Homo sapiens: one gene and its partners. The protein of the gene in region 3 purifies or fractionates together with the protein of the main gene of each other region. This does not show direct contact. Each region holds a gene or a part of one and is shown on either strand. Other genes may lie near its edges.

What was found.
Region 1: the proteins of MFSD6L (region 3) and FDFT1 purify together in Homo sapiens (affinity purification with mass spectrometry; one large-scale study listed by BioGRID and IntAct). This does not show direct contact.
Region 2: the proteins of MFSD6L (region 3) and SPTLC2 purify together in Homo sapiens (affinity purification with mass spectrometry; one large-scale study listed by BioGRID and IntAct). This does not show direct contact.

The regions. Positions count from the first base shown.
Region 1 is NC_000008.11:11,819,647-11,823,294, forward strand, and holds part of FDFT1 (squalene synthase), read left to right. Parts: intron 1-2,103; coding exon 2,104-2,232; intron 2,233-3,648. UniProt on the Homo sapiens protein: Catalyzes the condensation of 2 farnesyl pyrophosphate (FPP) moieties to form squalene. Proceeds in two distinct steps.
Region 2 is NC_000014.9:77,614,404-77,618,151, reverse strand, and holds the start of SPTLC2 (serine palmitoyltransferase 2), read left to right. Parts: upstream 1-1,514; 5' UTR 1,515-1,572; coding exon 1,573-1,704; intron 1,705-3,748. UniProt on the Homo sapiens protein: Component of the serine palmitoyltransferase multisubunit enzyme (SPT) that catalyzes the initial and rate-limiting step in sphingolipid biosynthesis by condensing L-serine and activated acyl-CoA (most commonly palmitoyl-CoA) to form long-chain bases.
Region 3 is NC_000017.11:8,797,156-8,800,903, reverse strand, and holds the start of MFSD6L (major facilitator superfamily domain-containing protein 6-like), read left to right. Parts: upstream 1-1,538; 5' UTR 1,539-1,783; coding exon 1,784-3,544; 3' UTR 3,545-3,748.

The DNA of each region.
Region 1 (3,648 bases), on a different chromosome or scaffold from region 3:
GCTTGTTTATGCTTTGTGAAATTCTTGTACTTTGGTTTTCAGCTCCATCAGGTCATTTAAGCTCTTCTCTACACTGGTTATTCTAGTTAGCCATTTGTCCAACCTTTTCTCAAGGTTTTAAGTTTCCTTGCGATCGGTCAGAACGTGCTGCTTTAGCTTGGAGAAGTTTGTTATTACCAACCTTCTGAAGCCTACTTCTGTCAACTCGTTAAACTCATTGTCCATCCAGTTTTGTTCCTTTGCTGGTGAGGAGTTACGTTCCTTTGGAGGAGAAGAGGCGTTCTGTTTTTGGAATTTTCAGCCTTTCTGCTGTGGTTTCTCCCCATCTTTGTGGTTTTATCTACCTTTGGTCTTTGATTTTGGTGACGTACAGATGGGTTTTGGTGTGGGTGTCCTTTTTGTTGATATTGATCCTATTCCTTTGTTTGTTAGTTTTCCTTCTAACAGAGGCCCGTCAGCTGCAGGTCTGTTGGAGTTGCTGGAGGTCCACTCTAGACCCTGTTTACCTGGGTATCACCAGTGGAGGCTGCAGAACAGCAAATATCGCGGCCTGATCCTTCCTCTGGAAGCTTCGTCCAAGAAGGACACCCACCTATATGAGGTGTCTGTCGGCCCCTACTGGGAGGTGTCTCCTCCCAGTCAGGCTACATGGGGCTCAGGGACCCACTTGAGGAGGCAGTCTGTCCGTTACTGGAGTTCAAATGCCGAGCTGGGAGAACCACTGCTCTCTTCAGAGCTGTCAGGCAGGGATGTTTAAATCTGCAGAAGCCGTCTGCTGCCTTTTGTTTAGATATGCCCTGCCCCCAGAGATGCAATCTAGAGAGGCAGTAGGCCTTGCTGAGCTGCGGTGGGCTCCACCCAGTTCAAGCTTCCTTGCTGCTTTGTTTACACTGTGAGCATAGAAGTGCGTACTGAAGCCTCAGCAATGGCGGGGAGGCGCTTCCCCTCACCAAGCTCCAGCATCCCAGCTTGATCTCAGACTGCTTGGCTAGCAGCAAGCAAGGTTCCATGGGCATGGGACCCCCCGAGCCAGGCACTGGAGGCAATCACCTGCTCTGCCAGTTGCGAAGACTGGGAAAAGCACAGTATTTGGGCAGAGTATACTGTTCCTCCAGGTACAGTCACTCACGCCTTTCCTTGGCTAGGAAAGGGAAATCCCCTGACCCCTTGCACTTCCTGGATGAGGTGACGTCCTGCCCTGCTTTGGCTCACCCTCCATGGGCTGCACCCACTGTCCAACCAGTGCCAGTGAGATGAACCAGGTACCTCAGTTGGAAATGCAGAAATCACCCATCTTCTGCATCGATCTTGCTGGGAGCTGTAGACCAGAGCTGTTCCTACTGGGACATCTTGGAAGCAACTCTGGGTCTGAGTTTCTGTTTGTTGCCCTGATGTATATCCCCAGTGCCTAGAATGATACTTGTTACATAGGAAGTGCTTGATCCATGTTTGCACAAATGAATCTTTCTCATAATGAGGTTTCTCTAAACAAGCTGTTCTCCCAAAAACTTAAACCCAGCTTTATGTTGAAGCATCTCATTATACATTGGAAAGATGAAATGTGTAGTGAGACTTTGAATCTTCTTTTGAATCTAGAAACATTAGCATTTTTAGACCATTCTATTTTAATATTTATGAAATTTATGAAATAATAAGAAACATGAGGCCGGGCTCAGTGGCTTATGCCTGTAATCCCAGCAGTTTGGGAGGCCAGGGCTAGTGGATCATGAGGTCAGGAATTTGAGACCAGCTTGGCCAACATGGTGAAACCCCACTTCTACTAAAAATATAAAAATTAGCTGGGCGTGGTGGTGCATGCCTGTAATGCCAGCTCCTGGAGAGGCTGAGGCAGGAGAATCATTTGAACCTGGGAGGCGGAGTTTGCAGTGAGCTGAGATCGTGCCATTGCACTCCAGCCTGGGCAACATTGCGAGACTCCATCTCAAAAACAAAAACAAAAACAAAAAAAATGTGTGACCTAAATTAGGCTTATAGATGAACCATTGCAGTCATGATTAATTCCGCCATTGTTTGCCTTGTGATCTTTGGTGCCATGTCTGTACATATTTCATGATTTCTGTGTTTTTACGGTTTCCATTTCAGATCTCCCTTGAGTTTAGAAATCTGGCTGAGAAATACCAAACAGTGATTGCCGACATTTGCCGGAGAATGGGCATTGGGATGGCAGAGTTTTTGGATAAGCATGTGACCTCTGAACAGGAGTGGGACAAGGTTAGTCTCATAAAACAGTGTCTGTGTGTGATGTATTAGACAGAGCTGGCAGTCCTCATAGTGAAGCTCAGAACAAGAAAAGTTGTCCAGTATTTTCAGCCCCTCTGGTTTTACAATTCATCTGTTTAGGTTGAATGTCTCATCATAAACAGTTTATTCCAGAGTTAATTCCAAACCAGCAGCTATGTAGGATATCAGCCAGGCTAGGAGTAGGGTACTGGAGAGAAGTGCTTATCTAGACAAAGGGATGTAATTGACCATGAAGATTAAAACTACACATCAAAACATAAGGTAGGGTTAGGAGTCTTGCCTATTTTTCATAGGAATGGTGTTTGTGAGACTTACTCATCACTTCTGTGGAAGTAAAGACATTTTATTTATTTATTTTAAAGCCAGTCAGATTTAGCAGGCAGAGACATTTCAGACATCTAAAGTGTTGATGTATTTCATACCTTTAACTGTGCTTAAATTAGGATCTCCGAAAAGATGCTGCTACATGGTCACTACGTTAGTGTAGGTCCAAGGTCTTGGGCCTCTTAATTTTTCAAACCTCAAAACTTGACAGCAGTTATCTTTGGAACTGCTGATTTGTGCTTCCTAAGTTAACAGCATACAATGACTGCTAGAAATCAATTTCTGCATTTAAGGTGAAGTTAGCCGGGTACTATGGTTTACCTGTAATCTCAGCACTTTGGGAGGCTGAGGTGGGAGGATCATTTGAGCCCAGGAGTTAGACACAAGCCTAAGCAACATAGCGAGACCCCGTCTTTCAAAAAATTAAAAAATGAGCAGGGAATTGGTGGCATGTGCCTGTGGTCCCAGCTACTCTGGAGGCTGAGGTGTGGGAGGATTGCTTGAGCCCAAGAGTTGAAGGTTGCAGTGAGCCATGATTGTGCCACTGCACTCCAACGTGGGTGACAGAGCAAGACACCATCTGAAAGAAAATAAAGTTGAAGTTAAAACTTCTGGCCAAGAACCAGCACTGGTTATGATAGTAACTCATTTTCTGTTGTGCAGATTTATTCAGGAAACTTAATTTTAGGTTGTTGAATAGAAGTTTTGATCAGATAAAATTGAATTAAAAAAAATTTTTTTTGAGACAGGGTCTTGCTGTTATCCAGGCTGGTGTGTAGTGGTGTGATCACGGCTCCCCGCAGCCTCAACCTCCTGGGCTCAGGTGATCCTCCCACCTCAGCCTACCGAGTAGCTGTAACTACAGTGCATGACACCATACCAGGCTCATTTTTGTACATTTTTTGTAGAGAGAGGGTTTTGCCATGTTGCCCAGGCTAGTCTCAAACTCCTGGCATCAAACAGTCCTCCCACTCTGGCCTCTCAAATGTTGGGATTACAGGCATGACCAGCCAATTATTTCAAGGAGTTATTTTTTTTCTTCTACTTTGGGGGAAGATGAAT
Region 2 (3,748 bases), on a different chromosome or scaffold from region 3:
GTCTCTCACTGAAATGTAAGCTCCATGAAGCACAGCCACATGTTTCCTTTTTAGCCTTATACATACAGATGTATATTCACTTTGGGATCAATAGTGTTTGTCAACTCAAATAGGATGTGTGGGATGAATGATCCCACCTTCTGTTAGATTATTCAGCTCCTAAGTCATGCAAAACCAATACCTTGTGGACCTCCTTTCTAAAGCTCCTGCAGGGTGGGGAAAGAATGCACGGATTCTCATAGGTGCATTTAGCAATTACTAGTAACCAACACTTAATGAATGCTTACTAATTGCTAGGTCCTGTACAAAATACATTACATACATAAACTTATTCAATCTTCACGACAACTATTATTGTCCCCACTGAACAGATGAAGACACATAGAGGTCACTCAGCTAGTAAGTGGCGCAGCTAGGATTTAAAACCCAGACCGACTCCAGAGTCCATACTCTCAATTATGATACTAAATTCTTTATGGATAACAGAAAGTCTCTAATTGTAATGTAGATCAATTTCCTTGCTTTCTAACCCCATGGGAAGATGGAACTAAAAGGGTGAGAAAATAATATTTATTATACTCCTACTATAAGCCTAGTATTATAAGAGGTGCATAATGGGTTAATGATATAATTCTTGCTGTAAGTCTATGAAGCAGGAAGTATTAACTCCATTTTAAAGAATTTGGCTTCTAAAGTGGTTAAACACAGTGCTCAAGTTTTAGCTTCCAGTTATTGGCAGAGTTGGAATTAGACCAGGTTTTCTAACTTTGAAGGAAAGACTTAATTTAAAGGAGACTGTATAGAAAACCCTGCCAAGGGCAAATGTGAAGGGCACGTGAAAAGGCATCTGAATTATTACTTATAATAATTCAGAAATAGTGAATGTGTGGCGCATATTGAAGAATGATGAGAGATTGTCAAAAAATCTATTCTATAAACACTCACAGAGGAATCAGCTAATTAAATAAGCGAGCTGCCTGTCTTGGGCTAGGACATAAACTCCAAAACTTCCCACGAGGCAAGGGCAAAGAGGGCGCCACCTGTCCTGGAGAACCTGGGAACCCGCTCTAGAGACTTCGGCTCAGCCCCTTTTATTTCCTCACACTCTAATTGGCTACTTTTCCCTGGGCTCCGCCTCCTCCTCGGTCTGGACCATTAAACAGGCAAGCCCTACCCCGGACCTGGATGCGGCCTCCAATCAGGTGCCAGGCCCTGGAGTCCCTCTAGAGAAGCCCCCTCTCCACCGGCGAGGCGCTTTGCTCTCGTCCGTGATTGGCCAGGCAGCAGCATGGGGTCCGCCTCCTTCTCTTCCAGATTGGTCAGCGGTCCTCAGGACCACATCCCTCTCGGCAGGTCCCCGCCGCTTTTTCCCTTCGCTGCGTGGCCTTGGCCGAGACCGGTCCTCTGCGGAGAGGGCCCCGCCCTCTGTGAAGGCCCGCCCGGGAATTGGCGGCGGCGCTGCAGCCATTTCCGGTTTCGGGGAGGTGGGTGGGGTGCGGAGCGGGACTTGGAGCAGCCGCCGCCGCTGCCACCGCCTACAGAGCCTGCCTTGCGCCTGGTGCTGCCAGGAAGATGCGGCCGGAGCCCGGAGGCTGCTGCTGCCGCCGCACGGTGCGGGCGAATGGCTGCGTGGCGAACGGGGAAGTACGGAACGGGTACGTGAGGAGCAGCGCTGCAGCCGCAGCCGCAGCCGCCGCCGGCCAGGTACGAGGGGCCCGCGCGGCGGGGCCGGGGTGGCGGTGTGGACTGGCGGAGGGGCGGCCGGGCGGGGCGAGGTCTCCGGGCCATCCGCTGGGCAATCCGCGGGGCGGGCGCCGTTCGCAGGTGTGGGCGGCAGTGTCCGGCCGCTGGCCCGACCTCCACGAGCCTGGAGGCTCAAGGACGGCTCGGGGGCTCCCCACCTCTCCGCGCCTGGAGGTCTTACTCCCGGAGCTCTGGGTTCTGCTCAGAGCTCCGGGTACTTTTCTCTGCCCCATTCTGCCAGAAGTGTGTGCTGTCCCCAGGGGAAGCGATGAGGGGCCCTTCGGACTCCAGTGGGAGCCGCCCAAGGGCTCCGGAGGGTCCCTTCTCAAACCCCTGAGGTTATTGCTTCCTTTTAAAGTCCTGCAGTCGTCCAAAGAAAACCACCCATGGGGTCCTTAAGAAGCAAAGAAAATTAGGCGGTGGTGTCAGATGGAAACACACCCAGCCTCTCCCAACCACATTCTGGACTACCACGTTCAGTCCCCAACCAGGACATTGGTCCATAGATCTGGCAGGGAATCCAAGCTGGTCCCTCGAAAGCATCATTCTCTTAACTCTGCCGGTGGTGAGACTCTACCCCAGGCTCCAGGTTGGATTAGGTGGCCCCTTCGACCCTTTCCTGAACACGAGTGCTATCACACAAGGGGATTGTTTAGCCTGGTGGTGACTTGCGATGACTCTATACTAATTAACCATGCTGAATCATCAACCAAGTTCAGGCAGTTCTAAAATATTTTGAAAAGTTCTAAATTCAAGACAATGCTTATTATCAACCTTACAGTGGTCTGGACTGACAGATATTCTGTTGAAATGTGTTTTTAAAGATGAGCTGGTTAAAAAGATGCAAGATCGGTGTTCCTGGAAGAGAGTGTTGCGATAATTTTGCAGTTGACTTTAATACGTTTAAGTCTTGTACAGATATTAAGGAACGCTTAGAAAGTACTCTGTTTCCCTTTAGCGGGAGTGTGACTGTTGCAGTTTGATAGGATGGTGATCTTAATTTGGCTTTAACATAACTACTCCCCAGATGAGTAGTTATGATGGATAGGTCTGTTACTGTTTGCTGCGAAGCAGAAAATAAAGCATTTTTCCAGGTCATGTTGAGATATTGAGACTGAGTTGAGGGGAAAAATAAGTAAAGCAGACTTGACCTCCCCTGAAGTTGTAAGGTGTCAAAGCGAAGTAATACACAGATCAAAAGATTTGTTTTCACTTTTAAAGAAATAATTGTGTGAGGGAGGAAGTGATAACAGTCAGCTCATTATAAGCAGTGGAATAGTTTGTCGTTTTCCTAGCAATGTAAACGACTTATAAGACAAAATTGTTGTGGTATAGAATGTAATAGGGAAATTTAACGGGTAGGAGTTAGAAAATACATTTGCAGGTGAATTTCATTGAGGTATGATTTTTTTTTTGTTTTTGTTTTTGTTTTTTTTTTTCAGACAGTTTTGCTCTTGTCACCCAGGCTGGAGTGCAATGGCGCGATCTCGGCTCACTGCAGCCTCCACCCCCTGGGTTCAAGCGATTCTCCTGCCCCAGCCTCCCGAGTAGCTGGGATTACAGGCGCCCGTCATCACGCCCGGCTAAATTTTGTATTTTTATTAGAGATGGGGTTTCACCATGTTGGCCAGGTTGGTCTCGAACTCCTGACCTCAGGTGATTGGCCTGCCTTGGCCTCCAAAAGTGCTGGGATTACAGGCGCACCAGGCCGAGGTATGATTTTTTTTGTTTTTTTGGTTTTTTTTGAGATGGAGTCTCGCTCTGTCGCCCAGGCTGGAGTGCAGTGGCGCGATCTCGGCTCACTGCAAGCTCTACCTCCCAGGTTCACGCCATTCTCCTGCCTCAGCCTCCCAAGTAGCTGGGCCTACAGGCACCCGCCACCACGCCCGGCTAATTTTTTGTATTTTTAGTAGATACGGGGTTTCACTGTGTTAGCCAGGATGGTCTTGATTTCCTGACCTCGTGATCCGCCTGCCTCGGCCTCCCAGAGTGCTGGGATTACGGG
Region 3 (3,748 bases):
GGGCCTGCTCCCCAACATACTCTCTACCAGCTGACAATGCAGGCAAGTCATAGGCCGAATTCCCTTACACATAGACATGTGTTGGCAAGCAGTTCCACTCCACCCCCAGCCAAATTAGGTGCTCTGAGCAAACCTTGTATGAAAAGTTTACTGAATCAGGAGCTGCACACTGGACCATTTTGAAGCAAAGCCTATAGCATCCTTCCAAAGGGTTTGGACTACTGGCATCTCTAGATTTTTTTTTTTTTTTTTTGAGACGGAGTCCCACTCTGTTGCCCAGGATGGAGTGCAGTGGCGTGATCTCGGCTCACTGCAAGCTCCACCTCCCGGGTTCATGCCATTCTCCTGCCTCAGCCTCCCAAGGAGCTGGGACTACAGGCACACACCACCACAACCAACTAATTTTTTTGTATTTTTAGTAGAGACAGGGTTTCACCGTGTAAGCCAGCATGGTCTCGATCTCCTAACCTCGTGATCCACCTGCCTCGGCCTCCCAAAGTGCTGGGATTACAGGCATGAGCCACCGCACCAGGCCATCTCTAGATTATTATAGCCTGTTCCAGCAAGAGAGGAAATGCCTTCAAAAAAATTATCTCCAATCCAGGTGGCTTGGACACCACTAATTTCACCAGTGAAAAACTATTTCTAATATCTATTATGTCCATTAGTGAAGACACTTCTGTTGATTTAAGATTGTCGACGTGCTTGTACTAGCTGTCTCTGTCTTTTTGATGAAATGCTAGCTAACCACCTCAAGTGTGTGTACTCTCAAACAGGGCACCAGACCACCCTTAGGTGTAGGTTAAAACTGTGCAGCACATACATATGGCTCTGGGGACTGCCATGTGCTGGCGATCGGCTGCAAGGAGTTCCCCTGGACGACTGCCATCAGCTGTCAGCCCTCCTTAGGGACTGTCCCAGCTGGAGACAACCATGTCACCCAAGGTCATGCCATTTCCGAGGGCAGTATGCATCCAATGAAACAATTCTAGGCCCCGGGGACAAAAATACCTGCCTTCCTGGAGCTTGGATTCTGGTGGAGACAGACAATAAACAAAGTCAACACATGAAATATAAGCCCGTAGTGCCTTGGTCAGTGATAAGTTCTAGAGAGAACGATCAAGTAGGGCAGGGGAGTGGGAGTCTTGGGGGCGGGGTGGGTACAGGGGTATGGGATTTGCGATGTCAGAGTGGACCGTGTTGATCTCTGTCTGTGGTTGGTCACTGATCAGGGTGCATTCCAGTACAGACCTGAAGAAGATGAGGGAGACAGCCTGGTGGATACCATTCATTCCATTCTGGCTCCCCCCCACGCCGACTCTGACGGTTTTACTTGCCTGAAGCAGTCCAGGCGTTTAGCTCAGGCTCCTGGGCCACATTGGCAGCCAGAGGCCAGGCGGGGCCCGAGGCCTAGCTCAGAGCGCACCCTACAGGCCCCCGGACGCGCCCCTAGCGCACCTGCGCACGTCCGGGCAGGTGGCCCGCGGAGGCGGTGGGACGTGGCAGGTGCGGCTCGCAGGTGCGCTGGCCCCGCCCCCACCTTCGCCCCCGCCCCGCCTCTCCCTCCGGGCGGGGCCCCTTTCGGTCCAACGGCAGGACCTGGGGGCTGTGGCCGGGGGCGGCCGTTGACCTGGTGACCGCGGCGCCGCCCCAGACCGGGGGCGCAGTCCCACTCGCTCCGAGCCCCGGTCCCCCAAGCCTCCCTCCCGGGTACCTGGGGCCGCGCCCGCCCTGCGCCCAGCTCCGCCCTCCGTCGGCCCAGGCCTGACAGAGCCCGGCAGCCATGAGTGCCAACCCCCGGTGGGACATCAGCAGGGCGCTGGGGGTGGCCAAGCTCTTCCACCTGGTGTGCGGGGTGCGGGAAGCCTGCGTGACCCCGTTCCTGACCCTTTACCTGAGGCAGCTGGGCTTGGCCGCGCCCTGGGTGGGCACCCTAATGGGAACCAAGCACCTAATCGCTGCCTTCTGGGCTCCCGTCTGTGCCTTCCTGGCCAAAAGCTACCGGAAAAGGAGAGCGCTTCTGATCGGCTCCCTGCTCGGCTCGGTGGGGGCCAGCCTGCTGATGGTCCTGGTCCCACCGGTAGACAAAAATCGGGTGCACTTCCCTTGTAATGGAAGCAGCGGCCTGACCAGCACAGACGCACTCCCGGGGGTCACGCTACCTGTGAACATCACCTCGGCCCAAGAGTCTGCCTCCAGCCACCCAGCCAAGAGGACTGCAGAGGTGGAAATGCCTGGCTTCAGAAACCCACCTGGTGAAAGTGACCGAGAAACTTTCCGTGATCTGCACGTCTACTTAGCGCCCTCCGTTGAAGGAGCTAGGACCACATCCCAAGCTCTCCTCCATCCTGTCACTTCGGGGCTGAAAGATCATCCCTGGGAAGTTACTTTTGAGGTGGTCAAGACAGCCCTCCCCTTGCTTCCTGGGGGGAAAGGGCCCGGGAATCCAGCCAATTTGTCAGGGACCAAGGGGAAAGCCTGGGCTTTTGACCTGTCCTTGGAGGCGTTGCGGCGGACTTTTATCCTCTCCTTGGGGTCCGTGGCGTTCTGGGAGCTGCTGACAGCGCCTCTGGAGCAGGTGGCAGATGACAGCCTTTATGAGTTCCTGGATTTTGTGGATGCCACTGACCGATACAGAAGCCTGTGGGTCTGGAGGTTGCTGGGCATGTCGGCAGGCGTGTGTGGCATCACAGCCTTGGTGGGGCAGCTGGACTGCTTCCTGATGACCAGTGGCCCCCGAGGTGTGGTCCACTTCTATGGGTACTCGGTGGTCAGCACCCTGGCCTTACTGGTGAGCATTGCCTTTCCCATTCCCATCTGTCAGCAGTGGGAGCCCAGCTACAAAAGGGTCAAAGCACTGTCCATTGTGGGGGGTGACCCCCACCTCATTCTCCTCGCCTCCACCACTGTTTTGGTAGGAGCCATCGTCAGTACTGTCCAGAACTTTCTGTTCTGGCACATGAAGGACCATGGGAGCGGCGAGCTGGTCATGGGTTTCTCGGTCGCCCTCAGCTTGCTGGGGGAAATTCTGCTTCATCCGTTCAAAGCTACATTGCTTAGGAAACTGTCCAGGACGGGCCTGGTGGGGCTGGGGCTGAGCTGCCTCGCTGGGCAGCTGCTGTACTACTCTTTCCTCTGGAGCTGGTGGTCCGTCCTCCCCATTCAGATCTTGAGTGCCATTAGCAACAGAGCTTTGTGGTGGGCTGTGGGGGCCTCAGTAGAGGACCTGGCCACTCCCCGCATGGAGAGGGCTCTGAGTGCCTTGTTCCGAGGCCACTTTTACGGGAGTGGCTGTAGCCTGGGCAGCTTTGTCGGGGGCTTCGTGGTGATGCGCTTCAGCCTGGCTGTGCTCTACCAGGCCTGCTGTGTGGCCCTGTTGCTCTGGTTGGCCTTGCTCCTGTCCATACAGCGGAGGCTGCCCCGAGAGCGGAAAATCAAGTACTCGAAGCTGCTGTCCATGGAGGTGAGTGACACCAGTGACTCTGAGCAGGGGACAGAACAGGACTGGCTTGTGAAGGCCATGAGGGAGGAACACTCAGACTGAAAGGGCTGAGAAATCCAGAGTGTGCTGATCCAGCAAGGAACGAATGGACTGAACAAAACTCAGCCTGCTGAGGACAGAAACCTGCCCTGGACTGCTGGGAGCCGGGGAAGAGAGGATGGGTCTGTGCTGAAGGCCCAACAGGATCATCTCATTGCATGATTTTCTTTACTTTTGAAGTAAAAGGAGATTTAACTTTTTGCCAAT